2 separate regions of the Homo sapiens genome follow, and region 1 is linked to region 2. A link means that fine-mapping ties the variant in region 2 to the plasma level of a protein whose gene starts in the linked region. Region 2 holds a variant in brackets. A gene starts in the other region. All regions are shown on their reverse strands.

Region 1 (5,336 bases), not on the chromosome of region 2:
TGTATGTATAAAATCTATAAGTTACATTTCCTGAAACTTATCTCTGAATCTCTAAACATGGCACATCCCTCCTCATTGGACTGAAGATTCTCAACGTTTCCTTTTAACCTACAGAGTTGAGTAGTAACTTTTCACCCTAACATTCAAATCCCTTGACTCAACCTTCCTTTCTAATTGTCATCCCTTGACATTGGTGTGGGCCCGAATTCGCATCTGGTTCATTGGTTTTCTCCCTGCTTGATGTACACATCATCACCATTTCTACCTCCAGGTATTTGCTCCCACTCTTCCTTCTCCTTTCTTAATGATCCTATAATTTTCCTAGAAAAGCCTTCTTCATTCATAAATAATAAGTTCAGGTCTCATCATCTCTATGAAACTTCAATCTAATCATCTTATCTATGGTGATTAACTCTTTCCTTATTTCCTAATACTGGCAGTGTCTGTATTACTCCAGGTTGGGGTATTAATTGGAGAGGTACAGATTGGGGGGTGGGTAGCCCAGTTAGGGGGCAGTTGCAATATGTTAAGGGAAGAATTGCATGCAGGGGTCAGGGTCTGTGAGAAAAGGAATGGGGGTTGGGCTCTTGCTAAATGGGTGACCAGGGTCATTGGACTCTGGGCTGCTTATGTTGAAGACTGGAAGGGTGGTGCTTTAATGCCTAACTGGCCTGCCATAAAGATTCTTCTACGGAGACTCAGAGGAGACCACCCAGTGGAGAAGACCGGGGCCAATCCACTTTCCCATTCCTTCAAAATGTAAGCCCCACCCTCTGAAATCATGTTCCTTTGTCACCACCAAGCTCATACTCTCAGCTTTGTAATTTCCTTCAAGAAAACACTGGAAGTCAGGTTTTGTACAAAAATATATTTATTTGGTGTAATAGTTACAAAATATTCATTTCCACAATAATATTTTAGCAATGCATTGGAATGTTAAAAAAAATTCTTTGTATTAATGATTCTTGCAAAGACCCTCAAAACATCCCAGGGGTAGAACTGTGGTTCAAGAGGAAAAGCAATTTCCCCAAGTCTCTGTATCTAAAAAACACTAGTACCATGAAAGATAAACTTAAAACATCAATAACTTAAATAAGAATTAACATTACTTAAGGCATAATGTTTCACATCAACAAACAAAATTCATTATAATAAAATAAAACAGGGTGTCTGGGGAAAGCTAGGGGAAAATAAGTTAGCTGCAGATTCTTGGGTTGTGGAGTGAGTGTTCAAGTCTTCGGAGTTTGGGTTTGCTTGTCCAGGTGGTCCATGGAATCCTGAACCCACTTCTGCTTGGGGTCAGCACAGATCTCCTTGGCCACAATGGTCTTGAAGCTGTGGGGAGGGAGGACAGAGTTAGATGAAGTTCCTTTGCAGTTTTGGTCTAGAAGTGCAGCCCATTCTGCACCAAAGGGCTGCCATGGGAGCTAGAGGAGGAACGCAGGTGGAAGGAGGGAACCCAGGGCAAACTGCTCCTATAGGTGTCCAGGTGGAGCCATCCTGACTTCAAGCTAAAGAAATTGGGGTGTTCTGAATAGGCACCCAGGTGGAGAGTGATGTTGGGGTTCACTTTTTCCCTTGGTGCCTCAGTTTTCCCATTGGGAACCTTTGTACATTAAGTTAAATAGTGCACTCTCTGACTCTAGGTTTATGAGGCTTGTCCCTTGCTCCACAAGGAAGAACTTCAGGCCAGGGAAGGTTGGTGTGCTGAACTCACATCACAGCTTCTTTGGGACACTTGCTGCTGGTGATTCTTCTATAGCTCGCGAGCCTCTGCACTGAGATCTTCCTATTGGTGAAGTTATAACAGCAGGTGACTGGGGCATTGATTGCATCTGGAAAATAAACCACAAAGAAAAAGCATTTTAGGATGAACTGGATTATTCTGATCTTAAGAGCAGAAAAGAGTCATGAGGAAAAAGCAAAAGGCAGGCAGGAGAAGACAAAGAGCTCATTAAATCCCAGTGCTTCTGCCTATACCTCAGAGCTAGAATGTGATCTTTGACCCAATGACTCAGTTTCCTATGCTGTAAAATGGGTATATAACATTGATAATGGACAGAGAGAAGGAGGAGCTGTTAAAGCTAGATAATGCCTACAAGTGTCATTAAGACGGACCAATAATCCAGATGATCAGCACCAGGGAAGATCAGCTGGGGAGCCCCACTATGAGCCTCCTTTTAGACTCTGAATAGGCTATGCCTGGTCATGAGTTTCCCTGATACTCATTACCTCTGCAGAGTCACCGTCTCTGGAAGCTAAGGTGAATGAAGCACAGACCAGATTCTGGGTCTCCAGCGTGTCTGGAAACAGCCTACACACCCACCCTCTCTTTGATTACCCTGATCCCCAAACTCTGCTGGAAGCAGCTGGGGGAGTAACTGCGCTGAGTGTGTTCCCAGAGCTGGAATCCTGGAAGGAGCTGGATTTGGGGTTCACAGCTGGAATTCTAGTTCAGGCTCTGCCGAGCAGCAGCTGTGTGGTTGGGCTCACCCCTTGTCCTTTTCTGAGTCACCTTATCTTGGAAAAGTAGCGTTAAAGCAAGACTGTGGGTACCACGTCTGCTTGGATGGTCCATGATAACTCAGAGAGAAGACAATGTGGTTCAAGGAGAAGAAGAGGGGGCCTTACCTGGCTGAGCGAGCCCTTGGGGAATGAAGGTGGCTGCTATGAGCAGCAGGCACAGAAGGGCGGCAGAGACTTTCATGCTGGAGGCGAGAGTGCGAGCTTCAGTTTGAGAATTGGATGTTTCTGGGTTAGTCTCAGCCTCTCGGTTCCTCTGGCTGCTGTCTCTGCCTCTTATTGAAAGCGGGCAGAGGGAGAGAGGGCGGAGTCAAGCAGGAGGAGGGATCTTCCATGAGTGATAAGTGGGCTGTTAAATCTGCTGAGCAAATGCAGCATCCTGTGGATTTCCAGGAAGTAGGAAAGGGAAGCAGGGGGTCAGGACGAGACACTTTTTCCATTCACTGCTGAGACCAAATGAGCAAATGGGGAGGATGGGGTGCCATTAAGCCCAGACTGACCACAGATGTGAACTAAGAGGGTTATTTTTAAGGATTCTGCTTTCTCTGAAGCGAAAACTGCAGAAAAGGAAGGAAGCGAGGAAACTAGATGAAAGCATGTCAGGCTCGCTGCCAGCTTACCTTCAGGCCACATTCCAAGGGGCCTCCCAGCCAGGAAGGAGCTCTCAAGCTTTGGCCGGCTCCCTGACAATGCATTAAATCCATTTGCTCATTCAAATGCAGAATAGTAGCATCATAGAAGCCTAGCAGAACTGTAGGATTGTGTAAACATTGAACTGAATTCTAAGAGTTCTAGGGTTTCAGACTTGGACAAAGGCATAGACAGCATGTAGTGCTGCAGAAGAAATGCCAGTGTCATACTCACAGAGTGCTTACTCTGCCAGGAATATTCTCAGACCTTTACAAATATTAACTCTGTAAATTCCCCAACTTTATCTAGTAGGGATTGCTAATTTTCATGTTATAGATCAGGCAACTGAGGCACAGAAGGGTTAAATAGCCTGCTCAAGGTCCCCTCGAGCACAGAACCCAGGCAGCCCTGTCCCCAGTGGGCTGCCACCTCTCTGACATACTGCTGGAAGGAAACGTGTACAAGTCCTCCAACTAGTTGCCTGCTTGGGTCCTCTCTCTGTCCTCAGCATCTTCCAAATGGGCAGACAGCTAAAGGAGAATCTAGAAACATTCCTCATGGCTAAGTCATTATGAGTTAGGAGGCTGTTGCTAGCATAGCAGGCAGCAGTGGACAAGAAGTTCATCCCTGGTTATGGCAGCTATTCTCCTGGCTTCCTTCTTAATTTCCAAGGGACATGAGTAAGCAGTGGAGGAGTATTTCGGGAATTGGAAAGCCTGACTTCATTCCTCAGTTGTGCCTTAGATTTCCTCAGAAACTACAGAAGCACACTGATAAAAACCCAAAGACCTTAGAATTCATTTCAGTGAACTGTTGTCTCTTACAAATATGATAGGAGTACTTGAGGCATGTTAATGGCTGGGCTGAGTTTAAAATTCTGATCTCTCGATTCTCCTAGCCCACTGCCTCCTCCTTCTGAGCCTTGCGGTGCCCTTGCCCAATGGGCATACAAAGACTAGTGACTTCTTTCATAAAGGGTCACTGAGGCAATGTCTATAAATGCATGGGGTTTCTTGAAAGAAAACACTTTTCACTACACTTGTAAAAAGAAACGGGTTGTATTCAACAAATGACTGTTTTATTTCTAGTAAGTGGTCAGTAATGGCATTGTTGAGTGCATTCAGGGAGTCAGGTATGGTGCTGACATACTTTCCAGCGCTGCCTGCCCAGTCCTCCAACCAACCCAGCTTTCGTTAGGTTAAAACTGAAGTTATTTGTCCAGTAACTCAGACAGAATAGTAGATGTGCTGAGACTCCCACCCAGGATGTTTCCATTCCAGAATCTCTTCTTCCTGGGACTAGACTTGATGTCTCATGATGGATATTGGTTTCCTGGAGAATCCCAGAGCAGAGACTCTATGGAGTGGCCATTTCAGACTCTGGTGGAATTACAAAAAGCAGGATGAAGAGAGAACAAATCAACTCGAGCCCTGCTTTGCTTGTGCCTCTTGAGGAGCCTTATTCTTGTTCTGCCTGAATCTCACTAGTTACTCCTTTTCTCCCCAACCAGTGTTGAAACTTCTCTGTGTTTGTCTCAGTCCTCTGCTCATGCCTCAATCCATTCTTATCCAATGAATAAAATGTTTCCAGGACTAGAGACTGTGCAACTTTGTGTAGGAATTTCTTCCTAGGCCATCTCACCTCATCTTCCAAGAAGTTTTCCTCATATCAGGGGAAACCTCTCTCTAATCAGTTAGTGCATCCTTTACCATGAACTTGGTGGACCGCATTCAATTTCCCTTTATAATCCAGTCATGCTTCGGGTTTTCTCTAGGTTAACAAGCTGAAAGATGCTGAGATCTTTAAATAAGTCTCTCCTGGCTTAGTCATATCAGCATCACTCATAGAATCCCAGAATCAATGGGCTTATAGACATCCTGTGGCATGACCACTTGTTTTTATCTGATAAAGCCACAATCCAGAGAAGGAGACCAATTAGCCCATGGTCACAGAGAAAAACTTCCCAGCTTTGCTGGCTGAGTGTTCACATAGGCTTCTGAGTGTTGGAAGCATGTCTCTACTTCAGGAAGGAGTTGTCATCTCTGGAAAGTGACTTGGCCTTTGCATATATCAGACAGTAAACACAGGGAAGGTGAAGGGTATGAATCAGAAAAGAAAGTCTTCTGGAAAGTGATAGCTGTCTGCCTCCCACTTCTGCTCTGTCAAGAAAAGATGCCCTCCCC
Region 2 (5,377 bases):
GCAAGTTAAGATATGGGGGTAGGTGGGGGAGTGAGGGAAAAAAGAAGCCTGTTAATTAAACCACAGAACTGTACAGATGTATCTACTGAGTGACAGGCAGCTCTCTTTCAAGAGGAAGAGGAGCAGAGCTGGGCTAAGGCTTCCCAGCTATTCTTTCCAAATCTGACCAATTTAAAAGCCACTCCACCTCCAGTAGAGGGGTGGAGAGAAGCCAGATGTAGACCCTTTGAGCTCCCTTCAGGAGAAAGGGAGTGGGATGTGGGAATGGGGGCTATGCATGGGCGTGAGCCCTCCACCTGGTGAGTGGACCTGGTCAACTCCATCCTCACCACTCACTGTAGCCTTAGAATTCCCCAGAAGTGATTTAAACAACCAAAGAGCTTCATTTCTTCATAAAACAAGCTAAATGCTGGTGATGGTGGTGGAAGGAAAGCCATAATAAAGAAATCTTAAAAAGCAGTGGTTCTGGGGCAGAAAACATAAATTTGGGATAAATTATCGACAGGAATATGGAATTCAGCAGTGACTCAGATCTTCATGGGAGTGACTCTACTGTGTGTTCCACATAAAAACAAGGGAAATCAGGGGGTATTTTGTGGGGTGCTCCAGTTAGGGCAATGAGTGCTCATCAATTGCAAGACTAAGCTTTATAGAATGTTAAAACGAGGCTTAATTTATGTGAGGATAAGCACAACCACATAAATTCTTGGTAGAAATATGGCTCCAGATAACATCTGGAGCCCAAGTGGACTCTGAAAGGGTATGTGGTCACTCTGGGAGATCTTGGATCTGATGTTTCACAGATGTCAAGGATCTCCCCTGGGCTTTCTTGGGTATCAAGAGCCCTCAGGCCTTTCAGGTTGAAGCTTCTCATGAACTACCCATTGATTAAACCAATGAATCCATCCCAATACATTTAATGTCTCTTAGGATAAAAGCATGCACTGTTAGAAAACACTCCTGGAGATTCACAGTGCATTAAAGGCCCCTGAGAAGTCCTGTAGTGATGAATCTGTTTGAAACCTTCCTAATCCAGCATTTCTCAAACCTATCTTTAACTTAGAAAAAAAATACTTTTCAAATGACAAGTGTTAACATCTCTCAAGGTCAGGATGCCTCAGGAGCACTCTGAGCAGTGCCGGCCTGATGCATGCACAGGCACTACAAGGGCATACTGCCCCCTGTCCATTGTCTTACCTTGACGGGGTATCCATTGCAGCCCAGGAGGTGGCAGGATGCTCTTGCAACCCTGCTACCTTACCCCTGTGTTGCAGATGGGGAAGCTGAGACTCAATGAGGGACTTGGCAAAAGCCACAGAGAGTGAAGGGCAGAGCTGGCTCTACCCCAGAGCTTGGGCTAGCCACATGGTGCTCTGTTTTCCGGCATGGTACTGCCGTCTGAAGAAGAGTTGCCTGTTGCCCTTCAGCCAAAGGTGAGGATGGCATCAAACCTGAAGGAAACCAGAACACAAAGTGGTTTCCCCAAGGTCCAGAATGGCTCGTTCTGTCCTGGCTTTTCCTACCACGGGAAAGAAATTTTTGATGCTTCTTTTGGGGTTCTTAGCTCACAGGAAAAACAGAGGTGTGTGGGAAAACCCAACCAAACACAAATGTCTTCCAATCTCCCAGATTCTCACTGCCACATTACACTGAAGCAGACACATTTCTGGGGGGCGGGAAAAAAGAGCCAAAACAACAACAACACACGCAGAAGATAGCTTAGGAGTATGGGAACATGGGAGGGGAAAAGCAAAGAACCTCAGAAATAGGAAAGGGTCAGCAATATTTTGCAGGAGAGCATAGGTCAAGCCACAACCTTGAGCATGTGAACGGAAACGATTGCCAGAGCAGCAGGGAGAAGTGCAAAGCTTCCTTTAATGCACCCACCTTCCTTCCCGGGCACCAGGGCCAGAAATGTGGGGCTCCAGCCAGACTTGTGTTTACTGTCACTTTTCTAGTGAAGTTAGTGGAAGGACTTTTGTAGCCAGCAGGGCCCCTCTCTAGCACGTTGGCAATCCTGTGTATTTCTGTGTTCCCTCCACTGACAGCACGTCACCCTCCTGTGAAAGCTTTACAAAAAGGACTATGGGCCGGGTGCAGTGGCTCACGCCAGTAATCCCAGCACTTTGGGAGGCTGAGACACGTGGATCACGAGGTCAGGAGTTCGAGACCAGCCTGGCCAACATGGTGAAACCCCGTCTCTACGAAAAATACAAAAATTAGCCAGGCGTGGTGGCGTGTGCCTATAATCCCAGCTACTCGGGAGACTGAGGCAGGAGAATTGCTTGAAATCAGGAAGTAGAGGTTGCAGTGAGCCGAGATTGTGCCACTGCACTCCAGCCTGGGCAACAGAGCAAGACTTCATCTAGAAAAACACAAAAAAGGATTATTCCCCTGATAGATAGCCTATTCTACAAAAGAGACAGGAGTGAGAACGTGGAAGCTGTGCTATTGGGGGAGGTGGTGGGCCACCTGTGATTTCAAGATAACAGGTGAACAAGAGTCTAGCATTGATCTGGGCCTTGATATTTACCATCAGTGCAACATCACATCCAGAATGGCACCAAGGATGGGGCAAACCACCGGTGCAGCCATGAACATGCCCCTCCCACTCCAGAAAGCCTAAGACCCCTCTGCAGGCTCTGAAATCAATGTTGTGCTTCCAATGACTGAGCACACAGGGATACTGAGGCAGGCCCAATCCCTAGAGATGCACTGACATTAGCTTAAGGACCCCCACGTGGCTATGCCAAACCTTCCTCAGGCTGCAGAACAGTCTAGGATGCGTCTACTACCGCTTGGTTCCCCTGCTACCTCACTGGGGTTCTGCCGGCTTTCCCAGCCCTTCCTGCTCCAGCCCACTTTCCCTCCCAGGTGCTTTTCCAACAAAATCTTTCCCTGTGTAAAACCTGCTTGGTGGCTGCTTTTAGAGATCTGGACAGACGTAACCTTCATGTTCAAATTAGCTTCAACATATTCCTTCAGGGCATTCC[C/T]GTGAGGGATTGTGTTGTTGCTTGTTCCTCTAACCATTCTGTGTGTTTCATTTTGCTCATTTTCATTTTTTTATAAGAACATCAAAAATCTAGTATCAAACTCAGTAAATAAATATGACGATGAAGAAAAAAATTGAACAATGATTTAGAAATTATGCAGAAAATACATTTTTCTCCCCAGGATATGGAAAATACTTCCTAATTAAATGCAAAAACAATGCACTTCCAATAAACAGGAACAAATTCATATAATGTTACCCAAGTAAAATATGTGAAGTTCTTATTTCCATGGTACCTCACACTGTCACATGGGCCCCTGGAAATGCAAGAGAGACATTGGGGCAGGGAAAGAGATGGGATAGATCAATAGATCTTGTTTCTCCTGAAACAAGATAAGAGGGGTGGATGAATAATGGATCTTTTTTAAAAACCACTTTATTGAAGTATAATATACAAAAAGCTGTGCATATTTAATCTATACAACTTGATGAGTTTGGAGAGAAATATACCCCTGTGAAACCCTCATCATAATCTATACCATAAACACAACTATCACTTCAAAAGTTTCCTCCTGTCCTATTTATCAAGATTATTACTTTAACGTAAGATCTACCCTCTTGGCACATTTTTAAGTATACGATGCAGTGTTGTTAGCTAGAGGCACCATGCTGTTCAGTACATCTCTAGGACTTATTCATCTTCTGTAACTGAAACTTTGTGCTCGTTGACTAATACAGATAGATAGATAATAGATATTGAAGCTAACCGCTCCTTTTCCTACAAGTAACAACCAGAAATATTTCTTATTGTGGGAAGATGTAATCTCTGCTTTGTTCACACCTGAGTAATAAAGTGTTTTGGAGCCTTCTATAAACTGCAGTGGCGATCAGGATTCTCAGAAAGTCATGTAGGGAGGGGTGCACAGCCCATTTCCATATGGAGTGCTGTTTTGCATCTCATCCACAAGATTAATCTGGGCACTTTTAAAACTTGTCAAAATCTGGGCCTGGCACAGTGGCTTATGCCTGTAATCCCAGCACTCTGGGAGGCCAAGGAGGGCAGATCATGAGGTTAAGAGATCGAGACTATCCTGGCCAACATGGTGAAACCCCTTCTCTACTAAAAATACAAAAATTAGCTGGGTGTGATGGTGTGTGCCTGTAATCCCAGCTACTCGGGAGGCTGAGGCAAGAGAATCGTTTGAACCCGGGAGGCAGAGGTTGCAGTGAGCCAAGATCGCGCCACTGCACTCCAGCCTGGACGACAGAGCGAGACACCTTCAAAAACACAAACAAAAAACAAAACAAACAAAAAACGGATCAAAATCTGTTTTGAGCAGCACAAATCCTGAATGAATAAAAACATGTGCCTAGGTCCCTGCCCTGGAAAAGATCAGAGGGCCAGTGTGGAGGGTGGAGGAAAAGTGCCTCGGTCCTTAACACCGATAAAGATGACTTTAATGCACCCAGGCTCATGAACTAGGACAGTGATCCGGAGGACGGGGCGAGGAGGTAGATGGAGGGGCTGCATTTACATCGTCAGAGGGGGCTGGGCCCTCTGCTAAGGGCTTTAGGTACCCTGTCTTGTTCAAACTCTTCAGTGACCCTGGGAGATGAGTGCATTTCTTTTTACCAGTTCACAGAGGAGGCACTGAGGTGAGTTTGTTAAGCAACGGGCCCAAGATCACACAAGCAAAAAATGGTGGGGCTTGTCCTGGAATCCAGCTCTATCAGATTAGTACCCAGCCCTAACCACTCTGCCTGCTGCCTTCCTGGAGGTCCGTTGATGTGGCATGAGGGGTTACATAGGACCAGGTGGCCTGAGGGGTGGGTGGTGGAGTATTTCTGTTCACTCCAGGCTTTCCATTCCACTCCAGAGGCCCATGTCCAAAATTCAGGAGTTGAATTTTATGTCAGGACACCTCTGCTTTAATTCTACACTTCTCTTTAATAAAGAAAATCTGAAGAAAACTTGCATATTGTGACTTCATTACAGAAAAGAATGAGTCCTCCTTATAGAAGGAGAGTGTCATGGATATTGGTGGGGCTCTGCTGGACCCTGTGGAGTCCTTCTTACCTTTCCTATGCACCCCTTTCTGTTTCCATGTTTTTTGCTTCCAGCTGCTTGCACCTATGATTCTATCAAGACCTGCCCTCTGACTACTGGAGTGGTTTTGCCCACAGAGCCAGAAGGAATCTCTCCAACTTCCTTGTCTTGTGTCAGAATAGACTCTGAGGCATAACCTAATGCTCCTGAGTCCAGCGTCCACTCATGGGATAAGGGCTACCCTAAGGGCTCTGCCTGGGACCACGCTCTTACTTGGCCTCCTCCCTCTCTGTCCTGCTTCTCTGACTCCTATGCTGTTTTTTTTTCTCAGCACATTT

Which allele goes with the higher level. Alleles are on the strand shown, and positions count from the first base shown. The strength of an association depends on the size of the effect and on how common the allele is.
As copies of C replace T in region 2, the plasma level of the protein whose gene starts at base 2,772 in region 1 goes down (weak association).

The links. PIP is the chance, under the fine-mapping model, that this variant and not a neighbour inherited with it causes the effect. Protein levels are from antibody-based Olink assays in UK Biobank. Linkage for the fine-mapping came from a reference panel and not from the study's own genotypes, which makes the PIPs less certain.
Region 1: CCL2 starts here. The variant in region 2 is fine-mapped to the plasma level of the CCL2 protein (UK Biobank, PIP above 0.99).

What each region holds. Positions count from the first base shown.
Region 1 is chr17:34,252,721-34,258,056 of GRCh38, reverse strand. It overlaps CCL2 (C-C motif chemokine ligand 2), which reads right to left and starts at 2,772. Exons shown (of 3, transcript NM_002982.4): 1 at 2,632-2,772; 2 at 1,718-1,835; 3 at 854-1,335. The coding sequence starts at 2,707. The coding sequence ends at 1,230. RefSeq lists enhancers at 2,101-3,075, 3,076-4,050, 4,994-5,336.
Region 2 is chr3:46,229,842-46,235,218 of GRCh38, reverse strand. It overlaps a transcript of CCR3 not described here. Among named protein-coding and RNA genes, the nearest start is that of CCR3, 9.9 kb to the left of the region's middle. The variant C/T (reference allele first, on the strand shown) is at 2,994.